2 separate regions of the Homo sapiens genome follow, and region 1 is linked to region 2. Evidence: fine-mapped expression QTL. A gene starts in region 2. The other region holds a variant in brackets. All regions are shown on one strand. Distances are from middle to middle.

What was found. PIP is the estimated chance that this variant, and not a neighbour inherited with it, causes the effect.
Region 1: its variant is fine-mapped to the expression of COLGALT2 in whole blood (TOPMed, PIP 0.99).

What each region holds. Positions count from the first base shown.
Region 1 is chr1:183,957,864-183,973,728 of GRCh38, forward strand. COLGALT2 (collagen beta(1-O)galactosyltransferase 2) reads right to left here. Exons shown (of 12, transcript NM_015101.4): 4 at 15,753-15,865; 5 at 11,406-11,610; 6 at 6,038-6,157. Among named protein-coding and RNA genes, the nearest start is that of COLGALT2, 72 kb to the right of the region's middle. The variant T/A (reference allele first, on the strand shown) is at 8,755.
Region 2 is chr1:184,029,041-184,044,905 of GRCh38, forward strand. It overlaps COLGALT2 (collagen beta(1-O)galactosyltransferase 2), which reads right to left and starts at 8,688. Exons shown (of 12, transcript NM_015101.4): 1 at 8,055-8,688. The coding sequence starts at 8,317. RefSeq lists silencers at 2,375-2,669, 8,411-8,500.

The DNA.
Region 1 (15,865 bases), 71 kb before region 2:
GGCAGAGCTGGAACTCAGTTTTAGACATAACTTCAAGTCCAATTATCTTAATAATTTTTACATGATGTACTGTTGTCTCAAAATGTCAATACTGAGAGCAGGTACCTGAGACTTCCTATCACCTTATGCTGTAATTTGCAAGAGTAATCTCCTCATGCTTTATAGACCATTTAAATCTAACATCTTTATAAGATCTGGCCTCCTGTCATTCATCTCCCGAAGGCAGCACATCCCCAAATTCTCTGTGCAGCTTCTAATGTACTAAATGAGTTATCACATGAAAAGAGATGGGCACAGTGCTTTTAATAAGTGTTAGTCATTGTCGTCATAACCCTTCTCCCACCTCACTCAAATTCTTCAACTCTGATTTCTAAAACTCCAGTCTACAATTCAGAAATTCCCTGACCATCCCCTTCACAAGATTTTCAATTCTCGTCCACTGATGCCTGATAAAACCCTAATCCTGGTTAAACCCATTGCCCACTTACTCAGCACCAAGAGGACTACTGGGAGAAACATACACAATTGTGTTGACTGAGTCACTTCAAAGCTACAATCACAGATGTCAAATTGGCACTTGACACCACCAAATGATGTAAGTGTCCTTTCATAGTAAATTTATTTTCCCACTCTTTGAGAGATTGTATCTTTTGTCTTCTCTCTCCTAAAATCTCCAAAATCTCTGTCTAGCTCATGACTGACTGGCCTATATACTTCAGAAAGAAAATATTCAAAATCAAATTAGATCTACCTTTTCAATCCACCTCAAGTCCACAAACCAAACTGCATGTGTATCAATACATTCTGCCATCCCATCTGCCACAGTAGATGAAGTTTCTATCTAGTATAGCCTCTGCAATATTGTTCTGGGCTGCAACCCAGGACAAAAACCCTCTTGTTTTCACCTTATAATTACCTTCTCTTTTACATCATCAAGATCTCCTTATATACTGGATCCTTGTGACTGGCATAAAACATACTGTTATATTTCTATTTTTTTAAAAAAACAGTACAAACAACCTAACCAGAAAAACCTTTCCCTTGACCTCTTACCCCCAACAGCCTCCATCGGATTTCTCCATTTCCCCATCCCATCAAGATTCAGCTTTCTCATCTCCCCATTGGCTTCTCTTCAGTCCACTTGAATGGATTTGTGTTCTCATCATTGCACTGAAGTGGCCCATGTCAAGGTCATCACAGACCTCTCTCTTGACAGAACCAATGACCAATTCTTTATCCTTATTTTCCTTGGCTTCTCAGCAGCATCTTGGCTCCGTCTTGAAACACTTCTCAATTTTTCCTCCTAGCTCTCTGGCTGTTTTGTCTTCCCCAGGGATCTGTCCTCTTCTCATCCTGTGTTCTTTTACTACATGAGTTCAGACTGTTCCACAGCTTCAAATATCCTTCTGATGCTGATGATTCTCAAATATCTGTCTCTAGCTGGAGTTTCTTCCCTGAACTCCAGACTTATATATCCAACTATCTTCTGCCTTTCTATTTAGATGCCTATTAAATATCTTAAACTTACGTGACCAAAACTAGCTCCCCAACCCCCAGTCTTTTTCTATAAAGTCTTTCCCATCTCAGTAAATGGCATATCAGGCTAAAATCTTGGACTCATCTTGATTCCTTTCTTTCCTTCATGGACTGCATTCAGGTCTCTGTAAGTCCTGTTGCTCCACCACCAAAATATATCCTCAACCTGTCTGTTTCTCATCAACTCCTTGCTAGAGCTCACATCCCAATCACCATCATGTCCCACCAGGAGAGAGGTACTGGTCCCCTACAATCTAGTATCCTCACCACAGCCCAAATGATCCTTCTAAATGCACAAGTCACTTCAGGCCATGCCCCCTCTGCCCCACCCCATCTTCCACGGATTCCCATTACTCTTGGAGTAAAATCTAAATTCCTTACCATGGCCAGAATGTTCGGTGTGATCTGGACATTTCTTCTTCCATTACTTCATCTCCCTTGACCCAACTCATTCTTTATGCCCCAATCATGCTGGCCTTTTGTCCCTGGAACACCCCCAAGCTTTTCCTGTCTAACAGTCTTTACATGTGCTGTTCTTTCCACTTGAGACATTCTTCACCCAAATATTCATATGGCTGCTTCCCAGATATATTGTCTATTGTCTAACTCTCTGTGTTAGAATATAAGTTCCCTGATGGCAGGGCTTCTGCCTGTTTTGTTCACTGCTTTATGCCCAGCATCTTGAACAATCTGCGGGGTACAGTATGTGTTGAATAAATCCTTACAGCCTGATTATCTCTTCTAACACCTTCATTGGCTCCTTAAGATAGGAATTCTTCTTTAGCTGAAGAAGAATTCAAGGACTACAACAATGAAGCCACTCCACCCTCTCGAACTTTATTTCTGCCTACTGTTTTAAGTCAGCTCTCCTTCAGCATGAGAATACTTCGTCTTTTCTTGGTCTGTTTCCTCTGCCTGTAGTGTCCTCACCATACCACTCTTCTTGTTTAAATTTTACACTTGTACCCAAGCTTAGCCTAAGAACGATTAGGACTTGAGGCTCTCCTGGATCACACAGGCCATAGCAATCTCTCTCTATCCCAAATTCCTATTTCTTTGATATTTTCTCCTTTCTCAAAATGCTATACTGTGTTGTTAGTGTTTTTTTAACATCTGTCTGTTTCTCCTATTAAATCATACATACCTGAAAACAGAGAATTGATCATAAAATGTTTTGAATCCCTAGTACCTTCAGAGAAGACGCATACATTACAGGCATTCTATGTTTGCTCATGAACAAAATGCATATACTAATGCAAGCTTGTTCAACCATGGCCCGCAGGCCACATGTGGCCCAGGATTGCTCTGAATGTGACCCAATACAAATTTGTAAACTTTCTTAAAACGCTATGTGATTCTTTTTGTGATTTTTTTTTTAGCTCATCAGCTATTGTTGTGTTAGTATATTTTATGTGTGGCCCAAGACAATCTTTCTTCTTCCAGTGTGGCCCAGGGAAGTCAAAATATTGGACACCCCGTTCCTATTCTTCAATCAGTATAGTCTAACAACACTATTAGCAGCCATTTATTTACTGCTTATTGGGTTCTAGGCACTATGCAAAGTGTTTTTAACACCTAGTTAATCTTTTATTAGAGAAGGATACTTGACTGATAGGATTTTGTCATTACCAACTTTTTATCAATCTTACACGGACTTCTAGGCCATATTTCTTCATTATACACCTCAAAATTTTATTTTTCCAACATTTTCTTACTCCTATTGTGTTCTATATTTTTAGAATTCAGGACAGAAGGTAAGTATAAGAATGAAATAAAATGCGATATGTAAAGTGCTTAGCACTAGAGGTGGCATGTGTTGGGAGATCAATGATGAAAGCTATAATTTACAGGTTCTTCTCAAATGAACTCTACCTGGCTAGCATGGTAGTGTGCATATTTGTAATTTACAATCATTAAAATCTTTATTGATGACACGTGCATTTCTGTGTACTGAGAGCTTATACTCTCAGCCCTGTGGGAGAAAACAAGAGAACATAAGGTCTGGCTGGCCTCTCTCTGAGGCCAGAGAGACTCTCCCTACTTGGGAGTCGAGACCGAGAGCCATGAAACAGGGATAATAAGGGACAGCACTTTATCGAGAGGTAAATGGAGTCATAATAATAGCAACACCTCATTATTTTATGGAGTTGATATAGTCTTTTATTTGCTCTTCTCAACATTGCAAAATCACTCTATAGATGAAGAAACTGAAGTCCTGAAATCTGATTCTCCCTTCAAAAGCGACAGTGTCTAAGTTCAAGCCCATTATTCTCGCTTTGGGTTCAGTGCCCTTGTCAATACAGTTTTCATTCATTCATTTGCTCATTTGTTCATGCATTCAGCAGATTTTTTTTGGTAACAACTACATGCCACGCACTGTGCTAGGTGCTTGGAATACAAAGCAATAAGATGCCACCCATATCCTTTAGGGCCTAGAACATAGGGAAAGTGGCAGAAAAAGTATGTATTAAAGAAATTCGCAAAGGAGATTCCTGAGGGCTGGTTCAAGAAATACTGTCACAGTGAACCAGCTCCTTATTTCATCATTTCATCATCATTCATTCAGTCATTTAACAAATATTTGCTGGGCATCTACCACGTGACAGACAATGTGCTAGGTCCTGAGACTAATATGATGAAAAAGGAATTTATAGTGTAGGAGCAAGGGAGTGGGAAGCAGATACTCATAGACAACTCAATGGATCTAAAAATAAACTCATGGTCTCTGTTTTCTTTTCTTTTCTTTTTCTCTTTCTTTTTTTTTTTTTTTTTTTTTTTGAGATGGAGTCTCACTCTGTCACTCAGGCTGGAGTGCAATGGCGCGATCTTGGCTCACTGCAACCTCTGCCTCCTGGGTTCAAGCAATTCTCCTGCCTCAGCCTTCCGAGTAACTGGGACTACAGATGTGCACTACCATGCCCAGCTTATTTTTGTATTTTTAGTAGAGACAGGTTTCACCATGTTGGCCAGGCTGATCTTGAACTCCTGACCTCAGGTGATCCACCTGCCTCAGCCTCCTAAAGTGCTGGGATTACAGCCATGAGCCACCATGCCAGCCATGGTCTCTCTTTTCAAACCTCTCCTTTATGCTACATGCCCTATTCCATTTAAAGTTCCTAAAATCACCCCCAGACACTCAAGACAGAACTTGGGAGTTTTCTCTATGCCTCCCTTTTGCTCATCTACCTACAATCAACTCTTGGCTATGTCCTTTCAAGCCTATGTCCTAAGCTTCTGTTCCTTCCTCTCCATTCCCACTGTTACTGCTCTAGCTCAGGTCCTCACCACCTTTTGCCCAGTAGCCGTGAAATGTCCAAAGTGGTCTCTTCACCCCTGGCCTGAGACCAGCAGCCACTGCCCATGCATCCCATGCATGCTCCACCTACACTTTTCTTACCTGTAGAGTGACCTTTCTAAATCCAAATTCAACCTGACATTTCTGTGCTAAAATCTTTTTGAGCGTGCCTGTCCTTTCAGCTGAAGCCCAAATGCCTTCTTATACATCAGAGCCTCTTGGCGGGGCTCCTGCCCACTTTCTAGCCTCAGTTTCTGCTGTTCCTCCCTAACCACCTCCACTGCCCACGTTCACACCCCCGTGCTCTACTGATGAATAACAGAAAATAGTCCCTGCTTTGGGAAGCCATTTCAACATCTTCCCCTAGGTTAGGTGGATTGGTTACTTTCTCTTTTAGCCACCATTGTACATCACACATAATAAAAAGCATAGCTACTGATGACTGAGCACAGCAATTCATGCATCATGCCAGACCCAGAGGCAATAACAATAGTGTTTAAGGACATGAACTTTGGAGATAGCAAGATGGGTTCAAATCCCAATCTGTCATTTGTTTAGCAGAATGATCTAGGGCAAGTTACTTAAGGTAACATCTCATTGTTTTTCATCTTTAATATGGGCATAATAAAAACCCTTCATTGAATTGTTGCAAGGATTAATGAAACAACAATGAAACAGTTTTGTACACTTTAATGTACAAAAAGTGCTTAGCATTTTATGATGTAACAGTGATATCTGTTACATCATGAGCTATTATTAAGTTAAAGTCATAACTACTGTGGCTGTATTAGCCTTTTTACATATACCATAATGAATCTGCCCAAAAACCCTGGAAGTTTTCATTATTTCCATTTTACAACTAAGGATATTACTTGCTCAAAGTCATATAATTAGAAAGCAGCCAAGTTAGGGTTTAAGTCCACACCACAAAACACTATTATAGCACTTATCAGATCTTTTGGAAAGTATTTACTTGTGTACCCAGCGCTCTTCCAGGATGGGAAGCTCCCACATGGCAAAGACCTTGTCATATTCATATTTCCCATAGGAAAAATTTAGGAAAGAATGAACAAATAAATAGCTATGTATTCAGCCAGGGGAGACTGATGGCTGTGAGATTCCAATCCTGGAAGAGGAGGGAAGTGGCTGGTATGGTCACTGTGGCAATGGAACGAGAGCCATCCCCTCTGCTCCTGGGTCACTCACTCATTGCTTCAATCTGCACATGGATGAGGTTCTCGATGTCTTCCTGCAGTGTCTGATGGGGCTTCAGGGGGATGGGCAGGTAGCCATAGTGCTCTCTGTTGCAGAGGTACATCTGGATGCCTGAGGATCCAAGAGAGGGACAAAGCCAACAATCAGAAAACATACTGCTGAGTGACAAGCGAGGAGAAGGAACCTGAACTGTGTCTGATGCTGAGTTTGACACTGCAATTAAATAAGTGGTTGTTTCAGGTATGTCTATAGACCTAAAAAATGCTCCTTTATTAAAAAAGTAAAACACAGCATTGGGGACTAATAAAAACACTCGGCTATTCTTCAGCCCAGAGGAAATTGATTTTTTCCCTCTGAAGAAAAAGCAAACTCATGGCCTGGAATGAACAAAAAAGGCATGAAAGGATCAAAAGGGAGGCAAGGAATTCCCATTCTGGAGAGCAGAATGGAACACTGTAATCCACCTACAGGAAATAACAAGAAAATGAGGAATGAAATCCACATTTGATATGAAAGCAAACAGGAAAATTCTGTAACGCTGACAGATTATTAAAGCTAAATCTAGGCATACATAGAACAAAAAAACGAAAAAACGAAGGAAATTTAAAATTCTCCAAGATTCTCCCTGGTTTTATTGCTTCCCTTAGCAGGCATGGATTTGGAGCCAACCAACAGACATGAAACTTCCAAAATCAGTTCATATAGAGACAAAAGAGTCTGCATTTCAGAATGTCCTGTTAAGAACCTGTAGTGTGACAATACCAGAAGTATGCAATACCCTTCTCATATTCAAATTGTTCTTCATAGCCCCACCTGATAACTTGCAGAGTTATAAGGCATCTGTGTTTAACCAGACAGCTAGAAATATAGGAATCAGGATGGTCTCATACACATCATTGGTCAGCAATTGACACTCCTGATCAATGATAAGACTGCTTAGTGAAAAGGATGAGTCCGCCATGTATCCAAGCCTCTGGTCCATGTATCCAAGCCTGTGATTTGTTAATTGCGATAATTGTCAGTGTTTTCCAGAGAGATAATTATCTGCATAGGGACTCCTCTATTTTGTGCAGATGAAATTTCCTCCAGTCAGCTACATCATCTGTCAAATCAGGTGAAGCTGTCTCATGGCATTAACAGAGAGGAAGGAGAAAAGAAAATAACCTTTATTCCCTGCTTTTACTGAATCTGGCTTGAATCAAGGCTGGTCTACCAAGCACTGTCCCTTCTCTTGCCTTCACCGAGCAAACTCATTAGCTCTGCTGTTTGCCCATATGAATGCTTCTGGGGAGCTTCAAAGTGCACCTTCTTGTAAAGTCATGATGAATTCAGGAAGTGGAAGGAAAAATATATTAAAGTTGCATCTCTACCCTAATTAGGCAAACCATTTTACCATTTAACTTTCTGAGGCTTCCATAAAAAAATGATATGATACCTATCCAAATTATCCATCAAGTGTGAGGGTACAAGGAAGGCATTTTTAGACATGCAAGACCATAATATATTTACTTGCCATCATACTTTCTCAGAAAGCTGCTGGATGATGTGAGAGAAGGACGAGGAGGAAAGGAAGGAAGAGGAGGAGGAGGAAGAAGAGGAGGACGATTATAACCAACAAGAAAGATTATAAACAACATGAACAGGAGAGTCAGTGTATAAGAGAAGAGAAATAAGTCTTAGGTTGATAGCTTCAGCACCACTTGGATTAGAATATATTAGAAAGCTCCAGAACAGACGTCTTCGCAAATATGCAAAAAAGGACATCTGACAAATCTGGACATTCTGAGAGGAGTTTGAGGTAATTAGTGATTAGTTTTGGATCATACTAGTAATAATAAAACTAAGCAAAAAAGGCAATTATTAAAGGAATTGCCTCCAAAGAATGGCAAAGGAAAACTAATCATAGCCTATGAATGACCAAGCTTGGAGTTAGGCTTGCATGATTACAACAAGAACACTGACCATCAATCTGTTTGAAATTACAATGGGAGAACAGGGTGATGAGAAGAATGTGTTTGCATGCAGAGGGCAAAAAGGAAGAAAAAGAGCTAACTCCTCACAGTCTATAGTGGAGAGTCAACAAATAATGCCCACGGTGAAGCCAGAAAATCAAGAAGTAGCAATGCATGCATATTATTTAACATGGAAGTAAATATTAGAGATAAAAGTGGTTGCCTTCTGGAGGACAGAAGTGATGCAGGGTGATGTGCAGGGGACTGTTCATTTCTTAATAAACCATGGGGAACTATATGAATACTTTCAACCATGTGCATGGGCAGTTTGATAACAGAAAATTTAAAAGAAAATGTATTAATAATTAGATAAAGTCTATGAAAGAGTCTGCACTCCCAGTGAATGCTGCTTCTGGGGAAGACAATTTTTCTTTTGAAAAAGAGAAGTGAATTACGCTACATTTTGAAGGACTGTTTTTCTTTTAAACATATTAAACATTTTCTTGTACTCATATAGTACCTTAACATTGCAGATTGATGTAATTATCCCTATCTTTGGTGATGAAAAATCAGATTCAGGCTGTCACTTGTCCAAGGTCACATAGTAAGTCATTAGTGCCAAATCTTTGTCCCTAAAGAGCCAATGCCAAGTGCTTTCTACCCAGTCAGTAATTGGAAGCTCAGTTCCAAGACCATTAGTCACTAGGGGATTGCCATCCCTCCACAAGGGGACAAATTTGATCACTACCAGTGGTG[T/A]TCAGGATCTGTCTGCCCATTGCCCATATCACTCACCTCTTTTGACTCACATCAGACATTTGGAAGACGACTGGCTGGCACTGGGATGATTCCTGTGGCCATGATACAGAACCCAGATCACTGGCCACAATGGGAGGTGAACTCTTGACCCTGGACTCATTACAGGAACAGAGACGCGCCTATGACCATATGTGCTCTCTTCTTGGGCTAGAAGGGTGGCCAAGCCCTGCTCACCAGCACACTTGGATTGCTCCTCACTCATCACCCACATGGGGCAATGGCTAGAGTCTGGGGTGAAAGATTTAGGACCAAGGTTTGTGGTTGGATGGTCCTGCCTGGGACATAGATGATACACAGCTAGGGAGCTTCAGAAGAGTGAGAACAAAAGAATACCAATCATATTTCATGAAGAAAGAGGAAAGTGCTTTGCTTTGAAACTAAGGAAGGAAGAGCCTGGAGACATGCCCTGGGCTGCACATGACTCCCAGGCTCATTCATGTTTCTCTTGAAAATACTTAGAGATAAGTACAATATTACCTTAAAATCCACAGTTGTCAAGAAAGACCTTTCATTTCCCCAAAATGACAGTGAATCTTTCCTGCCTTGACTCCTGCCCTGTTCATGGTCTGCACCGCCAGTCTGGCCCTTAGCTTTCACTGCTTCATGACTATTAGTTGTGTTTTCACATGTAAAAATCTTAACTCCCAACTAACACCGTGCCAGGAACAGAAGGAAACACTTGGGAGTTCATCCTCTCTCTTTCCTTTTCTATCTCCTCTTCCCAAATGAGTCACCAAACAACTTTGGGTGTCTACCTGCTTTCAATGTTCTAAAAAAGCCTTTTCAAAGTCTGACCAATAACACACAAAATCCTGGTGAACAGGCCAAGCACAGGGCAGAGCTGAAAAATTCCTGCTTAACCTGAATCATTTTTCCCATACCAATATCCAGGTATTGGTTTCATACAATGTATCATAATAATTTAGTTCATTGCATCATAATAATGCTTTGTGCAGTGACTATAAAGGAGGACTCTGTTAGGCAGTGTCATTCGTGTAATTGTTAATATCTCACTTTCTTGGAACATCCTAACTTCAACCTCTGAAGGAAAGGGATTGGCACTCAAAGGACTCAAAAAGCCCTGACTTTGCTTCCCATCCTGGGGAAGTCAGAGCAAATCACAGACCAACTGAAAGAAGGAGTTTCCATTAACACTGACATAGGAATCTTTACAAAAATCTTCCAATCATATGAGGATTGCTTTTGCCTAGACATAAGGGCTACAAAATGCCTACACCTGGCCAAAGGGTCTAAATTGCTCCAGCAGCCAAGGGGGAAATCAGCCTGACCCATTTCTACCAAATATTCTTATTCTCAGCAAATCTACAACTGATGAGTGGGACATCTATGGCTTTAAGGAGAGTCTGATGTGTGAATTGTAGCTTGAATTTGTATTAACATTCTCATCTGCCAGCCACTTCCTCAGCTGCCGGAGGATCTTTGCACCATCTTTTCCACCCTCAGTTATATGGCCACAGTGAGTTTATTCACCATCTTCTTGGTTTATGAACGTATTTTTGCTAGTGGTTAAGTGACACATTTCTGGCACATTAATAATGGGACCCAACTTCTGTCAGGAAAGTCTGAATTATCCTAACAAAGCTTTGCTCTGTTAGATGCCATGTGTCTTGCTGTTGAACTGCTCTTGTGAATTTTGTCCTCCTGAAGCAAGTGTAGGGTGAAATGAGAGAAATAACTTTCCTTCCTGTTGACTTGTCTTTCTCAAAAATCTCCAGGCCCCACTAGAAATGCTTTCCCAGTGGTTCATAAAAGACCTCAGTCTCGCTTTGCCTCTCCTTCCACAGGGACTGAGGCTGAGACTGTTCGGTGCCTCTTTATCTGTTCTTTCCTTCTTCTAGAGTGTGAAAATTGCAGTGCATGCATGCAGAGAATAAAGACGACATTCTGAGCCTCCCTTACAGTGAGGTATTGTCCTGTGACTAAGCTCTAGCTAACAGGATTTGCATGGAAGTACTGCATTCAACTTCTGGATTGCACACTTCAAGGGACAGGGAGAGTTCTCCCTGTTGTTTCTGCCTTGCTGGCTGAAACGCATCCATGGTGGTGAGACACCTGGGACTCCACAATTAAGGGCAGTACCTCGTGGAGTGTGAGAAGCAATACACAAGAAGCCTGGGACTCTGAACACTTTGTGGAACAAAGCCACTACAGCAGCTCAGACTTTTTCAAGAAGAAATAAACTTCCATTTTTAAAGTCTGGGGTCTTTGCCAGTGTTGTTTTAGGCCTCTGTGACAGTTTCCTAATTAATAAATGAACTTCTATAATAAACAATTGCAATGCAGTAGCACCACAGAGAAGCAATCACCTTCCCATAATTCCCAATATCACCACCAGTCCCTCCAACTCAAAATAGAGTGGGTTCCTGGGTAGAGGCCAGCCCTGGCTCTTGGTCATTGGTGCTCCCAGGGACAGCAACATAGAGGGTGCTGGTATGGTTATTGCAGACAATTTACTGCCTCTCACTACCAGACATATGAGGGTTTTTTTTTTTAATAAAATGCACAAAACAAAGGAGCTGGTCATTTTGCTGTGTCTCCATTGTGGCACTACAACCAAAGACAAACAGTACCTGCTTGCCTGCTGGAGAAGGCAAAGACAATGATGTCATCAAAGGTCCAGGTGTAGTCCTGGTGTGGGGGGTAGAAAGTCAGCTTGTCCGAGGCCTCCTTCCTGAGGTCAATTAGGAAGGTGGAGTGGACCATGGGGACGGGGAAGCAGCCTGTCCTCTTCCATTCTCGAATCTGAACGTAGTCTGGGGTCCTCTTATAGAAGCCCTGTAAAAGAGCAAATAGGTGGGTTGTGTTTTCTGATTTGAAGTCTTCATCCTTCTCAGTCATTTGCTAGACTGATTCCTTTCAAGTCATTACCAGCTATATACAAGCTCCCAAACAAAGCCACCTTCACTCCTCTTATCATGGCCTATGAATTTCCAAGTGAGCACAAGAAATGCTGTCTACATATAAAATAATACTAAAAGGGTCTTGATATAAGAAGTAACTTTTATTTCAGCATATCTCTAGATTTAATAATTTCATAAAAGTGTATTTTATGTTGACTTATGATTAAATATGAAGCATGAGTATTAAGAAGTGGCAGAGCAGTTAAGGGCACAGGTTCCAGTGTCAGACTCCCTGAGTTCAAATCCTACCTCAGCTACTTATTGTCTGTAGGTATGGGTCAAGTGACTCAACCTTGCTGCGCTTATTTCCTCATCTCTAAAACAGGGATGACGGCACTATCTACTCCATGGGGTTAGCTGTAAAATTTAAGTAAGGTAGAACCTGAATAGTGTTGAGACTACTGCCCAGCACCAAGAATGTATCAGCAAATACCGGCTCCTATTAAAATGACATTACACTGTGGCTAATATTTGTAATTAAACATGCATTACTTAGATATACAAATGAGGGTCTTCTTTCAATGCAGTTACTTAGTCAATATTCTGGTGAAGCTGCAGCTGCTCCATAGTTTTTGGGGATTCAGCTTCTGAAACGTCCTTCTGCACAAGCACACAGGACAACCAATTTCCTTATTCCAAAGCTTGAATCATTTCCAGAAAAGATGAAGATATATCTCAACAAAACATGCTTACAAAACATACTTGTGGAAGCTTTGCCAGGCATTTTGGAAAATGTTCTAGGTGATGGCAGGCTCACTGGAATGAGTGTTAAGTTTTGCAAAGCCAGCACTCCGAAGGGCACCATACTCTGGAAGTTCTTATGTGTTCATTAATCAGTTGCATCACTTCATGGTTACATTTCCTGTTGTAATTCAGCATCCACACATAAGGTGCTACAGCCTCACCTACTTCTCTGACATTCCCTTCAGGTTCTAGAAGAGTGTCCTAGCTGAGCTAACCCTAATGCCGACCCCATGATAAGGGAGGAGGATCAAAAATGAGGACTCAGAAGATGTGGGTCTCAGAGTCATCTTAATCACCTTCTAGCCGTTTGATCTTAGTCCATGCCTACCCTCTTTGAGCCTGAGTTTTTTCTCCTGAAAAATGGGATAACAGCTGCTCTGTCAATCTCATAGAGCTGCAGAATGAATCACATGTGATAAGGTCTATGAACCTATTTTGGGAACTGCAATTCATTATATGAAGTATTATCATTACTATAATGTTTTTATTAGCCTTTAACTTAAGGATCATTTAACATCCTCTATGGTTTTCCTAATACTTCAGCTTATGAGCAGTCTTCCAAGAGATAAAGGGGACTCGGGTTTTTTAAAGGGCTGCCTAAGTACTTGCGTCTAATATAAAGTTCTAGATTACTTAGGAACAATATTCCCAGAATGATTAGCTTGGAAAATCCATGATGATGATGAATCACTGAATATCCTTGGGGTGGGGGTGAGAAGGAAGGAAGCAGGGAGAGTGAGGGAGAATAAATGTGCCTCCTGCAAAGAGGCAGAGATGATGAATGTGTTCCTTTTTCCACATAAATTGAATCTTGTTGGTAATAATTCCTGTTCATTGGCCAGACAACATCAAGGACATTTTGTTTTGAATGAGTTTAAAGGCTCTGGGAACCAGGTCCTGCTTTGAATTTATGAAGTCACTGGCCCTTTCTATTCCTGCTCTAGTAGAGACTAACTGGGATGGTAGAAAGCCAAAAATAAATGGAGGAAAATAATACTTGTCCCTAAGTTGCTCAGAATTTAGTTTTACTGTACAAAACAAGTGAGCACATTTCTCCTATTTGCTTTTAAGCCTGAAAGTAAATAAGGAGATAATACAAATTTGTAGGCTGCGGCCACTAGGATAACCCACCCTTGTTGCTGATGTCAAAGCACAACTCATTAAAAACAACCCTCAAGTGATTCTGCCATGTGAAACACTGAAAATGTATGAATTTAAACCAATATAATGTTTTCTCCCAAGGAAGTGAATGGCTGTTAGAAATATGAACATATTACCTTCCCAAAAGAGACACAGAAAATAGCACGCATTCAAAATCTCTTACAGCTAGAAGAAATAATTACAACAAAAGAGGAATGCTTCATCCAGTGGTGTACTGGACCACACATTGTTAAATTTTCAGAAAGTTTGCAAACCAGTTGACATGTTGATAGCTTGGAATCCATAAAAACAAAAATCACGTTAATCCCCACCACTCTAATGACACCTCATGTGGCAGTTTTACATGTTTTTAATAGCTGTATCATCAAGTGGCTATACTGCAGTTTACTTAACCTTTCCCTTAGCTTAACAACATTTAAGCTGTTTGCATGGTGGGAGTATTTAAACCATAAAAATTGGCAATGCTACCAACTAGGGTTTTTCCCACAAAGAGCCAGTTATTAAACATTTATCAGCACACTACTGACCTTATTTCTCATCCAAAACAAAACCAAATATAAAGGGGAGACTCAAACTTTAGCCCTTTGGCCATGAGAATACATTGAACATACTCCCTCTTTTTTTGAGACAGGGTCTCAGTTGCTTAGGCTGCAGTGCAGTGGTGTGATCATAGCTCACTGCAGCCTCAACTTCTTGGGCTCAAGCAATACTCCCTGCTCAGCCTCCCGAATAGATGGAACTATAGGTGTGCACGACACCACAACTGGTTAATTTTTTGATTTGTTGTAGAGATGTGGTTTCGCCATGTTGCTCATGTTGGTCTCAAACTCCTGGGTTCAAGTAATTGTCCTACCTCAGCTTCCCAAAGTGTTGAAATTACAGGCATGAGACACTGCTCCTGGCCAACATATTTTGCTTAGCACATTTTTATCCTACATTGATACATATTACATTAATCAGTTGAATTTATCTAATTCTTTAATTAAAGAATAAAAAATATAACCAGCCATGAGCATTCACTAAAACAGACCACTATTTTGAAGATTTTACTATGAAAAAAAGAAATAATAAAAAATCAAACCTTTTTTAACTTGAATTTTATAAAAATAACCTACCATGGTAGTTTTCATTATTAGAACTCTTTGGAAATAAATTTGGCAACATACATCGAAGGTCATTGAAATATTTGTACTTTTTTTTTTTTTTTCTTTTTTGAGAGGGAGTCTCGCTCTGTCACCCAGGCTGGAGCGCAGTGGCGCGACCTCGGCTCACTGCAAGCTCCGCCTCCCAAGTTCACGCCATTCTCCTGCCTCAGCCTTCCGAGTAGCTGGGACTATAGGCGCCCAACACCACGCCTGGCTAATTTTTTATATTTTTAGTAGAGATGAGGTTTCACCATGTTAGCCAGGATGGTCTCAATCTCCTGACCTTGTAATCCGCCCGCCTTGGCCTCCCAAAGTGCTGGGATCACAGGTGTGAGCCACCGCGCCTGGCATATTTGTACTGTTTGACTCAGTAATTCCACTTCTAAAAAGCTATCCTAAGGATATAATCTTAAATGCTGAAAAATTATATTAATCATGACGGTCACGATAGTTAAAAAGTTGTGAATAATTTAAATGTTTTTCAAACCGAGATAAAGGTTAAGTAAATTGGAACATAGCCACTTGATGATAACACAGTTACTAAAAACGTGCAAGTTTCTATCTATGATGTTGTTACGGTGATGGGGATTTAACATCTGTCTTGTTGGTTTTCTTTTAAACTTTTTTTAATTTCTAAGTTTTTCTATAGTGTTCTTATGTTAGTTTTGTAAGGACAAAAAGAATTAATTAAAAATAGTAATTCCTGAATCAGGAATTGGCTAATTTGACGTTTCTAAGGCTAAGCTCTTTAGACTATTTTTTTCATAATAAATTAACACAGAAGAGCCCAACTGGGTGTAGCATTGGACCCAGATTTACTGCCCTTCCTAAAAAATGCTTGCTCTGGGAACACAATGACACGCATGTTTCAAGGGAGTAAACAAGAGAAAGGTGAATGGGACTACTGTTGACCGGGTGTTGCCTTGTTAAAACTAGTAGCCTTAATTCATTTAAGCAAAAGACTTGCCTTAGGGGTGATTCCGCACCAGAAATTAGAATACAGGCCCCGAGACTCCAGCATGGGGGCCACAATAGTTTTGTTTTCTGCAATCAGTAGATTGAGGGTCTGTGGATTAGTCA
Region 2 (15,865 bases):
ATGGTGCTCCTAGAGAGGAAAAGAAACGCCCTGCAGCCAAATCTGAGGTTTAATTCATGCAAGAGACTTGGCTAATGCCACCTACCACAAATGCTGCATTTTCACGGATCTGAACTACAGAAAGTTCCAGCAAATTAATTACAGCCACTCTATTTATATTCTACCTGACTTTTCAATTATTACCTATAATGAGATTTTTATTTTTATGAACATTAATGCACAGCTTTCCTACCAGAGGAGTAGAGAGCTAAGGGAAAAGTAATACAATCCTGATCCTTTTACCACTAGGTCACTCGCTGGCAGCTTGCCAAGCCTGCTGGTTCCCCAAAGTAGTTACTGCTTGGGTCCTAGGGTTCCTTCAGCAGCCTGAGGTGGGAGCAAAGCTCACCACCCAAATGTCAACATGGGTCAGGCAAGTCAAGTCAAAGAAAGACAGCGGGGACTAACTGCAAGTGCACACAGTGTGGGTCTGATGGGGACTGGGCTGCCTGGACAAAATCCAGGGGACAGCAGCTACTCAGCTCCAACAATAGTTGCTGTGTATGAATCCAGGCCTGGCAAGGTCAGGTGCTGGTTACATGGCATGTTTTGTCTGTGAAAAGTTACCAAGTTATACATTTATGATATATGAACTTTTGGATAAATATTACACCTCATCAAAAAGTTTTTTTTATTAGGGCCAGACCTTCTAGAGGCCAGAGAGACAAGGACAAGAGAGCAGGACGGGTGTTATCAGAGAGGCCTTCAGAGTACCTGCCTGGAACAGGTGTTATATGAAGCTGGCTTTTATTGTGCCACCCAGGGCATGGCTGTAGATAGGCTGGCAGTGTTTAAAGAACATGGGATAGAGAGATGGATTTTAAAATATCACACTTATCCAGAACTGGATATGTAAAACACTCATATTTGGGTTAAAATGAAAAGGATATATGTATATGTATAGAAAGTTTCTAGAAAAATATGAAAGAAAGTGTTAATATTGGTCACTGGCAGGTGGTATAGAGTAGATGGGAGATTTACTTTTTGTGATATTCCCAATCATACTTTTTTTATTACTTTCCCATTTAAAAAAGTCAGAAGAGCAAATTCTTAAAATAACTGAAGTACTATTAAAAATCCATAAAGACCCTAAGGGATTCAAATTTTTAAAAACTAACAATTTTTGATATGCTAACAACATATCAATTAAATGCAATTAAATGAACAAGTCACTCTTTTGAAATAAAAATGTCAAAACATAGAATACATACGTTTTGTAATTCCTGATGAATAATAGCTATAATTTAAACACATATGGTAAAAGTTCTTCATGATATGGTAACTGGGGAATAGGTGTAGTGGCCATACCATAGGCTAATGATTTTCTTTCAGACTTTACTGTATGTTGTTATGCTATGTCAAGAAATATGCAGAAACAAGCCTTATTATTGTCCTACTATAGTCCTATATAAGCCTTATAATGGTCCTACTATACTGTGCCATAGACTTGGAGACGGTGCCACACAGCAATATGACCCAAGTGCACGTTTAAGTGTTGGAAAAAGAACCAAGAGACAACCAGCAGCCTTCTCAGTTACAAGGCATTCATTGTTCATTCCTATGACCACCAGAAACAGACAAGCAAAAGGAACCTAAGAAGCACATGCTTATGTATTTGGAGTCACAAAGAAACTCCCTGGCCTAATCACTTGGATAAAGGAGCTAAAAACAGATCTGAGAAAACCAAACTCTGCTTAAAATACTCCCCATGCTCCTTTAAACCAAGAAGGATATTCATTATAAAATAATCAGCATTAAAACAGCTACACAGGATTAAAAATCTAGAAATCAGTTATCTCATTCCATAATCACCATGGGAATCTCTTAACTGCCCTGTGCTTTAGATGCCTCATCATGGAACTCAATATAATAAAACCAGGGCAACTTAGGCATTCTTACTAATTCTGTAGTTAAGCTGTCATAACTGGAACAACAGGATTGGTGTCATTTATTAGTCACTTCAGTTTTTACCCAGAGGAAATATTCTGAGCTCCAATCATATTTTGAAATTGGAGGTTGCAGGGAGGATTGATAATTTCTTCAATCATTTGGAATGAAGCTGAATTTAGGGGACAACCAAATCTAAGACTACTGATTAAAAAGCCTGAAAAATGGAATCTCTATTTTACCAATATGAACTGAAAATGTAGCCAATACGTGTATGATTAGTGCCACCTTAATCATTTGCCACTAATAATACTTGAGAAATTTCTTTCTACTGTTATGTAGCTATGATCACAGCAAGTGACCTGCATATTTATGTACAACCCACATTTTAGTCATAATCTGTCCCTATGAAATATACCAAAACAGATTAGAGTTCACTAAAAAGTGCCTGAACTAAGTGATGAAATTATCAAGACAGCGGAAGAGAACCACTAAGACCCTTGCATCATTCAAGTGGAAATGACAATTCTTATTTGAAAGAAACACTAGCGTTCTTATCTTCCCAAGTTGGGTCAACCGACAGAAGCAAAAACTAGAACTAATTGGTCTTTTCACAATCTTAAGCAGACCATCTGTACTCGGTCTGCAACATTAGCTGCCTGGGTCACATCCTGGCTCCACCATGCATTAGCCTAGTGACCTCAGGCAAGTTATTTATATTCTCTGTGCCTCGGTTTCCTTCTGTGTAAAGTGATAGAGTAGAATGTAATGGCATCTCCCACCTAGGGTTGTTGTCTGGAGTAAATCAGTTTTGATACCAAAGTGTCTAGAACAGTGCCTCCATGAATGTATCCTTCCTTCCTTCCTTCCTTCCTTCCTTCCTTCCTTCCTTCCTTCCTTAGTTCTTTATTTTTCCCTTCCCTTACCTTTTCCTTTTTCTTTTCTTTTGAGACAGGGTCTCGCTGTGTTGCCCAGGAAGAAGCACAGTGGCTCAATCTCGGCTTGCTGCAACCTCCACCTCCTAGGTTCAAGCAATCCACCCACAGTCTCCCAAGTAGCTGGGACTATAGGTGCATGCCATCGTGCCTGGATGATTTTTACATTTCTTGTAGAGATGGAGTTTCACCATGTTGCCCAGGCTGGTCTTGAACTCCTTGGCTTAAGAAATCTGCCCACCTCGGCCCCCCAAAGTGCTAGGATTACAGGCATGAGCCACTGCATCCAGATAAATGTTAGTTTCCTATACTAATATTTTTTGTTGTTGTTGGAAAGAAGAAACTAAACAAATTTCCATTTGAAGATTTTTTAAAATCTTGATTTTGAAAGGTAAAGGTAAAGGAGATAGGAGAAAAAGGAAAAGATTCAAAAGAAATAGCAACTATCATTGTTAGTAGCATTTATGTAAAAGACACTGTGCATACCTTATATCATTTACTTGTAACAATAACTCTTTGAGACAGGTGTTACTATTAGTTATTTGAAGATAAGGCAGCTATGTCTTAGAGGTTTACTGATGTGCCCACAATCACACAGAAGATTTATGCTCTAGTCTATCTGACCCTAAGCTTGTATATTTCTTCCTCCAACTCTGGTTGATGCCCTCCACGCTAAACTACCAGATTGGGAAAATGAGGAAAGGAGGAAAAAGGTGAGGAAAACAGACTAACAGACAGAAGGGGCCTAAGGCATCATCTGCTTTTTCAGCCATAAACCGAAACTTCTATCTGTAGGGATAACATACAACATTTAATATCAAGAGTGTAATGATAAAATATGACATCATTCTTACCACTGGTGCTGAAAAATGTCACTGATACTAGTTTGGAACAGTTTATAAACACAAAGTATATTAGTATTTCTAGTTAAACAATTATGAAAATGCTACTGATTGGACATTAAAATGTGGAGATAAATTCAAGATAATCCCCAAACAATGCAGAAATAAAGTAGTATGCAAAATGTTAGGACCATCCCCCAGCTCATCACTGTTTATGTTTATGTCAACAGAAGCTCCTCTCTTTATTTAAAAATCCATAAAGCGGTTCCCAATTTAGTATGTTACTTTTCAAAACTCTGCCAAACAAAATGCCCAAATCTTTCTGTAATTACATAGCAGTTACTGCCTTGTGCCTGCACAGACTCTGTGAATCCCAACTGTCTTCCCACAAGCAACAGCAGGCTCTCCAAAAGAAAAACTTAATGTTTCATTTGGGGCAAATGTTTTTCCCTGCGCCATGCTTCGGTTTTCACTGTCATGGTACTTGGCCCCACTCTCCCTAATCATAGGTTTAAGGAGGATGAGGTCAGCCTTCCCTCTGTTGCTAAGGCTACTTGCTCATGGTTCCACTGAATTAAGGAGAACCCACTGAAGTACACTACCACTTGTCACAATGCCTCACAGTTCCCTTCATCTCAGCATATTCCCAATTCCCTAAAACTTAGTGCAGGTTTTAGGACACATGAAATAGATATCTTCCTTAGGTCCTTATCACAGGATTGTGATATTTGAAGGAAAACAATTAGCTTGGTGGATTTTGAGATCAGACAGGTAAATGTAAAAAGCTTTCCTTTTTGCTTATACAAAGTATCTCTAAAATATAAATTTTCCTTTGTTCAGACTAATCTGAATAAACTTGATGCTGACTGAGATAACTGCAGACATTCTTCAACAACAGTATCTTCCAGGTCAATTTGATGATACTCATTTCATCTGTATGTGCAGTGCAGATCTGGTCCAGAACTTAAAGTGAGAAAAATTATCACATAACAGGGGAGTCTGAATGTGATCAATAAGCCAGGTCTCTCACTGACCCATCTGGGACAGAAATCAGATGCTCCTCTAGCCTGTGAGTGGATGAATGAGAAGAGTGAGTCTGCACAGAGTGAGTTATTGTGGTCAGATTCAGAGGAAGCTGAATTCTGTGTGGCTCTGTATTCACTGCGGTTCTATTTTACAAAGTTCTGGGTAGCTCACAGCCATTTTTGACATCAGCATGTGCTGGCTTTGCAGAATGGATACTAATCAGTTTGGCATCTTGGAATGTTGCATAGAGCTTGGGAATGAGAAACTAGAGGCAAGCAATCGGTAGAAGCACCTCAAATCTGTAACATCCTAAACTGAGGTACCACCTCCCATCAGAGTGTTATATCTCATAAGCTTCCCAGCCAAATATTCCCCTAGGGCCAGACCAGAAGTCAGCACTTCCAAAGAGATTCTATGGTACAATACAATCTGTTTGGAGACTTGCAGTCATTAGACCTGCCACCCACTTGAACTCCCTGAGAGAAAACTCTGGTTGATGCCCTATTATCTTTTTTTTTTTTTTTGCTTGTTTTTTGCCTTGCTGATCCCTTTTTCTAGAGCCATCCTTCTTTCCCAGGTTTTAGTTGATTTTTACTCTTCCTTCAAAACTGAGTTCAAACTAAGTGTCCACTCATCAAGAAGACATCCATATCCATACAACTGCCCCAATCTGATTTATAAATCATTTGGTTCTTCCCCAAACCCTTTAAAAGCCATTCAGATCACCTTACACTGCCCAGTAAAATGAATCATATTTATCTGTAAAAAAACACACATATCTAAATACACTTTTTTTCAGCCCTGATCTGGCTGGTTCTTATTTTAAAAAATGCATTAGAAGAATATGCTTGTACAGCCTCTCTGTACCTCAGTTCTCTCACCTGTAAAGTGGTATAATAACAGTGCATATCTGATAGGGTCATTTTGAAGCTTAAACCAGAAAATGAATGTGAAGTTCTTAGAAGAACCACGAGCTCTTATTATTATGTGTGGAATTTATAAATAAATGTAATTTTGAGTAAGTCAATCACTTTAAACACATTTCTTCTTCTGGGAAATAGAGATAATTTTATTTCTTCACAGAATGGCAGTAAGAATCAAATGAGTTAACAGTGCATGGAAGTTATTTCCAAAGGTTCTTTACAGCTCCTTTGTGAGCTGAAAAGAACTATTTAGAAACTGGGATTTGTATTATTGTTACCTAAAGAATTACACAATGTTTTAAAGACAGAACCAAAATTTTTCAAAGAAGAGTCTTCAATGACTGACGCAAGCATGGCCTTGCACTTCTTGCTTAACCTGCCAATGCTGGACATAAAAGACAACAGATTTCAAAGGTCTATGCAGAACTGGAATTCTCTCATCTAAGTAAGACACCAGTGTCCATACCATCTGGAACTTACAGGGAACTTAGGATGTACATTGATGCTGGTTGATCCTAATTATATTGCAAAATCTATGGAATTCAAGAGCCATAAAGAATTTTTGAAATCATTTATTCCAACTCCCTCGTTTTATTGATGAGGCAACTGATGCCTATGGATCCCAAGCAACCAGCCCCAAATCACATATCAAACTAGTAATAAACAACTCAAGTCTCCTAATTTGTAGATTATAGGCTTATGTAAATTTTGTTTATATCATGTTTCCTGCCTTTTTAGGGTGGCCTTGGGTTCAAATTCCAGTTTCACCATTTATTAATTCTGTCACTTTAAGTGACTTACTGAACTGATGCAAGTCTGTCTCTTTCTTTGCAAAATAAACATCATAGCATCCTCTTAAAAGTTTACTGTATGATAAAAAGAGGTAATGTCTCTAAATCAGGTAGCAAAGCATGTGCCTGACACCTGCTTCACCACTCACCAACTTCTTATGGTAAATACTGTAACGTTTTAAAAAACTAAATCATGCATAAAGATCAAAACCATATTTTAAAATATCTCTTAAAAAAAACACAACAACTAAGGTAACTGATATGTGTGAATTTCTTTTGGTACCGAAGTGGTTAAAAAAAAATCCTTCCTTCTGGTTTAAAGCCTGGCTGTCCCAGTGCTCTCTTTCCACATAATATGCCCTTCTCCGCCAGGCGGTCACGTATGGCAGGGTATATAGTAAAGCAGTGTACAGCACAGAGCTGTACTATATCACATGTTTGCTTTCGCACCTTTGCACCTCTCCCACCAGGTACTCTGAGGCTGCCAATTCTAGCTGCTGCTTTTACTCCTCTTCCTCTCTTTGCCCAACCGCTGCTTTAAGGATGTGTCTCGCCTGAGAACAGCTCCCTTTATCAACACAAGACAGAAATTGCTCCAGAGTGACCTGGGCTCTGTCTTCCTCAGGGGGCCAGAGTCTTCTTGTCCGAGTACCTACCTGACAGCACATCTCCCCTGGCCAGCATCCACCTCCTTGTCCTCCACAACCCACTCAGCGGCTAACCTGGCCACCAACTAACTTCTCGCCCTCGGATCCTCGCGTTTATAAAAGGTGCGAGACGACCAAGTTCTACAAGGTGGGGCGGGCAGGCACCCGCACTTATCCCCTGGCCCTCCCCGCAGCAGACACAGGGACCAGGTCCAAGCTTCTTTCCTCCGGGGACAAAACTTGGCTGTTTATCTTTCCCAGGGCATCTTCGTCTCTCCCCGGGACGTGGAACCCCGATGCACCGGCAGGGACAGCCCGGAGCGCTCGCAGGAGACCAGGCCCACGGTGGTGCCATGGTTGGGCACACTCCGCGGGCTCCGCCCAATCTCCACCCCTAGGTCCAGGTCCCCCTAGGAGAGCTAGGAGCACATTTCCAGCCTGGAGCAGGAGCCCGGCACCGGAAAGTCAGAGCAGCGCACTGCGGCGCCCCAGCCACTGCGGAGCCCCTGGCCAACCGCAGTTACGTTCCATCTGTCGTATCTACATGGGAATACGGCGACAGGCACCCTATCCCCTCACGTCAGGGCTAGCAGTATGAGGTGGGGAAAGAGGAAACCTCGAGAGTTAAAAGCGAGGGAACTGAAAGTCCCCTTGAGGGGTGTCCCCCATGCCCCTTGTGGGACAAAGCCCCAATTCGCAGGCTACCCTCCAGAGCTCCAGCGGTCCGGTTCTCCCCATCAGCACCCTCTGCGCACACTGACCCGCGCGTCCCTCCGCAGCCTGACCGCCCGATCCGCCAGCCACCGGCGCGGGCAGCGAGGGGGTGTGTGCGCCAGATTTTCCGCGTGCCCCCCCGCCCCTCCAGCGGCTCCCTCGCCCTGCAGCTGCTGCTCCGGGCGCTGTCCGCGCTGGGCAGGCCGCCCCCGCGTCCCGCCGCGGCGGCCCGGGGCCCGTGCGCGCTCACCAGATGGCCATCCTGCTCTTGGGGTAGTCCAGCCGCTCCAGGCAGCCGAGGAAGTGCGGCAGCGTGTGCGCCGCGTTGCGGGCGAGGACCGCCACGAGCACCGTGGGGCTCTGCAGGGGCGACTCCGGGAAAACCACCGGCTCCTCTCCGTCGTCCTCCGAGTCCCGCTCGGCGACGAAGCGCGCTCGGCAGCCTTCGCGGAGCAGGGCTGAGGAGAGGAGCAGTAGCGACCAGGCGAGGGTGGCAGCAGGGCGCGCAGCCATGTTCCGGGCCGAGGCGGGCGGCGGGGAAGTCCTGGCGCGAGCGCCCGGCTGGGCTGCCTGAGGGCGGCGGCGGCTGCCGGGGAGCAAGGGGCTGCGAGGGGCGGCCGGGGGATGCGGCTTGCCGCGGCCGGCCGGCTCACACACTGGCCTCGGCGGCTGCGGTTCCCAGGACCCTCCCGCCGCCGCTGCACCGCCCAGGCCCCAGTGCGGGTGCGCAGCGTACCTGCAGCCGCTGGCGCTCCCCTGCGCCTCGGGCTCGCAGACAGTAGTGGCCGAGGGGCTGTGTGCCCTGAGTCCTGAGGAAAGTTCCTCTAGTCCAGGTTCCGCTCGTACAGCTGAGGTCTGTGGCCTTCCCTAGAGCCGCGAGTTGTGGCCCTGTCTGCCAATGAGCCTGTGAGTGTGTGTGTGTGTGTGTGTGTGTGTGTGTGTGTGTGTACATAACGGTACAACCCCAAGAAAATTTATTCTGCTTTTGCAAACCGCAGACTGAAGCCCTTCACAGTGATGCAATGTATCCAGTTTTCATAATGCACCTATTGACTGAGTAGAGTTCTAAAATGAAAAGTCTCCCCAACTATTCACGATTATGACAAACACTTGTTTAACCACCGCAAAGGCAGCATGTCGCATTTTCTTATATACTCAACTTCTGAAATTCATTCTTGACTGAGTAGACACCTAATAACACAAAGTTTGAAGACTTGGAGAATTTTGGAGCCAGATCAGACCCCGCAAAATAAAAGAAAGCCCTTGGGAGACACTGTCCTGAAGCCTCACTCTACTGTGAACCCAGTAAGCCTCCTCACAGGAGGGCTGTGAAAGAATAAATTCACTTAGCTGGTTTTCTTTTTCCGTAATAAGCCAATATGATAGAGTAACAAAGAGGGAAAATTCGCGCATGTTGGAGAGCAGAGAAGAGATAAGGAAGAAAAGAAGGGGTGAAGGAAGAACACAATTAGCACATAAAATGAAACTGCTGGCATACACTGCTAAAGGAGATTTACTTTTTTTTTTTTTTTTTTTTTGAGACAGGGCCTCACTCTGTTGCCGGGGCTGGAGTGCAGAGGCACGATCACAATTCACTGCAGCCTCGACCTCCTGGGCTCAAGCAATCCTCCCACCTCAGCCTCCCGAGTAGCTGGGACCACAGGTGTCCATCACCACGCCTAGCTAATTTTTTTTTTTTTTTTTTTTTTTGTAGAGACGGGTTTTCACCATTTTGCCCAGGCTGGTCTGGAACTCCTGGGCTCAAGTGATCTGCCCAACTCGGCCTCCCAAAGTGTTACGATTACAGGCATCAGCCACCATGCTCGGCTGGATATTTAGTTTTGAAGATATATTGTGTAGCCTTTGATAGATAAGTATGGAGGGTGTTTTGGTGCCAGTGCACATTCATGATCTCCAATCCCAACTCACCCTCAGGTCTGTCCCATAGTCTTTTTATTAGTTGTTATCAATCCTTCTCAGCAACTATTAGAAGTCTTCCCTACTGTCTTTTGAAGTATATCACCTCCTTCATCCAGCTCCCCCAACACCACTGTCTCCAACTAGCATCCCTACCAAGACCTTTCTTACTTGCAGGTGCCTCCTCACGACAGGGTCTTTGATCACAGACTAGAAAGGGAGAGGTCTCCCTTTCTAGCCCATGATTTTTCTCTATCATTCCACTCTCTACTGAATCTTCAACTGATCTCTATCAACTCCTTTCTCTCAAGCTAAATACTTGGTCAGTCTTCTCTTATCCGTTAAAAAAAAAAGAAAGAAAAGCTTTAAAAAAAAGTCCTGTGTCTTCTTCTAGTCATCCCTTTGCTTGACCAAGCTCCTTGGAAGAGAGATCTATACTTGTATTCTCCACTTCTTCATCTCCCATCTTTCCCACCACAGTGCAGTAAGGCGTCAGCCCTCCCCACTGTTCTGCAAAACCAACAGATGGCCTCAGCATTGGCAGATTCAGTAAACTCTTCCGTTCTCACCTTCCTGGACTTCGATTACATAATCTCCCATCCTAGATCTCCTCTGATACTACTTGTCTCTGAGCCAAGCCCCTTCACTGTGTGCCTCCCTATAGTGTGCTAGTCTTCCCACTCCATATGGTCTCCTGTGGTTATATCCTCAAAATCTATGTCTTCTGCTCTAATCTCTTCTCTAATCTTCATATTTTTTTATCGAATGGCCTACAGACATTTCCTTCCCCTCCATCCATTTTCAGGAATTGTTCCCACTTTCAAGGGGCTCACAGTCTTGTAGGGAAGACTGAGAGTTAAACATCTGTTAGAAGTACTGTAACAGATGTACCAGCTACAGTGAAGGGATAGAGGAAGATGTGGTCATTTCCACAAGGGAGGTAGTGATGGGACTGTTAGAAAGGTCCAGACAATCTCCATGTTGTTCTGTCTTTCTTGTTTCCCTTTCTTGAACTATGTCCCACTCATCTTTCAATACTAAAATCCGCACTCCTTAGCCAAACTTGGTTTGATAGTTATCATTTGTTCACTTTACTGCAAACAGAGGGAGTTTAAAGCTAGGCAACCACATTTCTGTCTTATTTTCCTTCTGTTACTGATATGGTCTGCCTATGTCCTCACCCAAATCTCACATCGAATTATAGCTCCCATAATCCCCACGTGTCGTGGGACGTAATTGAATCATGGGGGCAGGTTTTTCCCATGCTAGTCTCGTGATAGTGAATAAGCCTCACAAGATCTGATGGTTTTATAAAGGGCAGTTCCCCTGCACATGCTCCCTTGCCTGCCGCCATGTAAGGTGTGTCTTTGCTCCTCCTTTGCCTTCTGCCATGATTGTGAGGCCTCCCCAGCTATGTGGAACTGTGAGTCCACTAAACTTCTTTTTCTTTATAAATTACCCAATCTCAGCTATGTCTTTATTCACAGCGTGAGGACAGACTAATACAGTTACCTAAAGTCAACAGCTTATCTGAGTCTATTTTTTCAAAGAAAGGTGAAGCATCTAAACCTGTATGGTCTCTAATGACATTATAATGAAATCGGCTCCATGGAGTTCTCTTAAAATAACTACAACCTGCTCTGCTCTGTAGATGAAATCAAGGGTTTCCCAGCCACATAACCTACAAAACACCTATTTAAAACTTTTAATTGAGTGCTCATTTAGTGACTGAGAATATTAAGGTAATAACAGGGTATGCAACAGTAGAAGATCATTGTAAATATGGTTGGGAGGCAGTGGAGGGGAAGCCTGGGAAAAATTAAGTCCCCATCTTACTAACAGATTTGTTTCATAAGTTCTTCAGAAATCAGTAATGTGAATTTGGATGTTTCCCCCCCGCATAGGATTGATGTTATAAGACAGTTAATTTGAAAAAAAAAACTAATTTAAAAATAAAAGCCAATTATATTTTAAAATATTCATTGCTTATAATGCTCTTTCCATGGAAAATCGGCTGAATGGAAAGTCAGGGTTGTACACACATATCTCTTTGTCTCCACTGCCAGTAGACTGTTCCAATTGATTCTACATAAAGTTAGAAGTAAGCACTTTCTCTCATATCCCCTCCCCATACTGTTCCAGCACAGGGGACTTCCATCTGGGACAACAAAACCTCTTGGACTGTCACCCTTAGTGCAATGTGGTGGGGACAGGGCCTATGAGGTGGCCAGAGGACTTCTTGCAGGAAAGCTTCTCAAGATGTCTGTGGCTCCAGCAGCCCAGAAGAGGAGGAAATAAATGCCTCTGGGGCAGCTGTGATAGGCTTGAAAGAGCAACTGACACTTGGAGCTGAATTTTCATTTCACTGGTGTCACTTATTCTCTTTGTGACCTTGGAAACTTGACCTCTTTGAACATCAATTCCTTCCTAGGTAAAAAAGTTTTAAATGCTTGCCTCATTTTTTCATTCAACAAACATTTATGAAATTGCTAAATGCCAATCATTTGAGTGTTGAATATTTGAATGCTTCTCCCTTGGAAAAACAGGGAGAAAGTGGCCAGCCCCTCGTAAGTCCTGCTGGGCCATAGTTGGCAGAAAGAGTCTCTTGGCTGAATTATCCAGGCTTCTTTCTTCTGTACTGAAATATCTTTCTTTCACTACCTGGTTTGTTTTACTCGCTTTTCTGATCCATCCTAAAATCCTACAATGTAAAATGTACTTGAATTGACAATTCTGCCAATTTCAACATGAAAATCCTTGAGAGAGGAGCATTAGATGATATCTTTTTAATTCAATCAGATTTTTAAATCTTATCACCTAAACTGAAATGGCCTATAAGAAGTTTTGATAAAGGGAACTGAATGGGATCCTAATTTGAAGCATGGGTCTCTTTGGTGACAAAGCAAGTTTTATGGATTTCTGATACGTAGGCCCGAGGACTCTGGGTCCTAGGAAGGGAATTAATATTAAGGGAGAAAAAGAGCAGTGACTGAGGTGGGAAAGGCTAAAATTAAACTACGTCAGTGTCAAAGTTTTGTCTATGCTCTGGCTGCATCCAAGAGCTATAGAATAGTCACTACGGAGGAATGTTTTCCAATTCAAAACAAGTTTATACAAATGTAAACTACACTTCTACGTCTCATTTAAGAATAGATGCATCCCTTAAATTATATTAACTCATTCCTTCAAACACTTGCTCAATGCCTACTCTGTGCCAAGATATAGTTGCTGGAAATGCATGAATAAATAAGATGTGTCATATAAATGCACAAATGCTATAAGTCATTTTATGTCTTATGATGGAAAAAGGAGCATAAGTAAGGAAGTGGGGAAGTGGAGATAGCTAGGAAATGTTTAATTAAAGAGATGTCTTTGAATTGAGCATTGAAAAATAAGTAGCATGCATGGACAGGAAGAATTAATATTTTTAAAATGGCCATACTACCCAAAGCAATTTACAGATTCAATGCTATTCCTAAACTACCATTGAGATTTTTCACAGAACTAGAAAAAAACTATTTTAAAATTCATATGGAACAAAAAAGAGGCTAAATAGTCAAGGCAATCCTAAGCAAAAAGAAAAAAGCTGAAGGCATCACGCTACCCAACTTCAAACTATACTACAGGGCTAGAGTAACCAAAACAGCATGATCCTAGTACAAAAACAGACACATAGACCAATGGAACAGAACAGAGAACCCAGAAATAAGACTGCACACCTACAGCTACCTGATCTTTGACAAACCTGACAATAACAAGCAATGGGGAAAGGATTCTCTATTCAATAAATGGTGCTGGTATAATCGGCTAGCCATACACAGAAGCTTGAAACTGGACCCTTTCCTTACACCAGATACAAAAATTGACTCAAGATGGCTTATAAATGTAAATGTAAAACCCAAAACTCTAAAAACCCTAGAATACAACCTTGGCAATATCATTCAGGACATGAGCACTGGCAACGATTTCATGAAGAAGATGTGAAAAACAATTGCAACAAAAACAAAAATTGACAAATGGGATCTAATTAACTGAGCTCCTGCATAGCAAAAGAAACTATCAATAGAGTAATCAGACAACTTACAGAATGGGAGAAAAATTTTGCAAACTATGCATCTGACAAGGGTCTAATATCCAGTATCTAAAAGGAACTTAAGCAAATTTACAAGAGGGAAAAACCAAACAACTCCATTAAAAAGTGGGCAAAGGACACGAACAGATACTTTTCAAAAGAAGGTATAGATGTGGACAACAATCATATGAAGGAAAGCTCAACATCATTGATTATTGGAGAAGTTCAAGTAAAAACCACAGCGAAGAAGAGGAGGAAATAAATGCCTCTGGGGCAGCTGTGATAGGCTGAGAATTATAGGATAACCACAATGAGATACCATCTCACACCATCGGAATGGCTACTAAAAAGTCAAGAAATAACATGCTGGCAAGGTTGTGGAGAAAAAAAAAACGCTTATACACTGTTGGTGGGAGTGTAAATTAGTTGAACCATTGTAGAAGACAGTGTGGCAATTCCTCAAAGTCCTAAAGACCATCGATCAGGTAATCCCATTACTGGTTATATACCCAAAGGAATATAAATCATTCTATCATAAAGACACATGCACGTGTATGTTCATTGCAGCACTACTCACAATAATGAAGACATGGAATCAACCTAAATGCCCATCAATGATAGACTGGGTAAACAAAATGTGGTGCATACACATCATAGAATACTATGCAGCCATAAAAAAGAATGAGATAATGTCTTTTACAGGGACATGGATGGAGCTGGATGCCATTATCCTTAAGCAAACCAATGCAGGAACAGAAAACCAAATACCACATGTTCTCACTTATAAGTGGGAACTAAATGATGAGAACACATGGACACATAGAGGGGAACAACACAAACTGGGGCGTATTGGAGCATGGAAGGTGGGAGGAGAGAGAGGATCAGGAAAAATAAGTAATGGGTACTAGGTTAAATACCTGGGTAATGAAATACTCTGTATCAAAAACCCCCATGAAACAAGTTTACCTATGTAACAAATCTGCACATGTACTGCTGAACTTAAAAGCTGAAAAAAATATAATTTGATTCGAAATATAAGAAAAGAAAAATGAGTAGCATGGACTAAGAAAAGGAAGACAGAAGGGGAAAGAGATGGGAATTCCAGGTAGATGGAACTGCAGGAGCAAGGAATGAAACAGTATGACACACTTGAGAGATACAATGAACAGGGCATGGCTGGGAGATAGGATGGGAAGTAGTAACAGAGAAAGCTAGAAAATTATACGGTTTTATACAATTTTATATATAATCATTTCTTTAAAATGGGCAAAGGACTTTGAATAAACATTTCTCCAAAGAAGATATACAAATGGCCATAAGCACATGAAAAGTTTCTCAACATCACTAATCCTTAGGAAATGCAATTCAAAACTATAAGATTTATCACTTCACACTCATTAGGATGGCTACTAGAAAAACACAGAAAATAACAAATGTTGGCAAGGGTGTAGAAAAATTGGAACATTGTGCACTGTTGGTGGGAATGTAAAATGGTACAGCTGCTGTGGAAAACAGTATGACAGTTCAAGAAATTAAAAATATAATTACCATATAATCTAACACTTCTACTTCTAGCTATATACCCAAACAAATTGAAAGCAAAGTCTCAAAGAGATATTTGTGCACCCATGTTCACAGTGGCATTATTCACAATAGCTAAAATATGGAAGCAAACCAGGTGCCTATTGATTAGTGAATGGAAAAGCAAAATGTGGTATATACATACAGTGGAATAGTATTCAGTCTCAAGAAGGGAGGAAATTCTGACATATGCTACAACATGTTAACTTTGAGGGCATTATGCTAAGTGAAATAAGCCAATTTTTAAAGGCAAATATTGTATGATTCAACTTATATAAGGTAGTTAGTCAAAATTACAGAGACAAAATAGAATGGTGGTTGCCAAGGGGATGGGGGTAGGGGAAATGGGGAGTTATTGTTTAATGGGTATATGTTTCAGTTTTAAAGATAAAAGAGTCATGGAGATGGATATGAGTAATAGTTGCACAACATTATGAATGTATTTAATACCACTTAAAATAGTAAATTTTTTGTTATATGTATTTTACCAC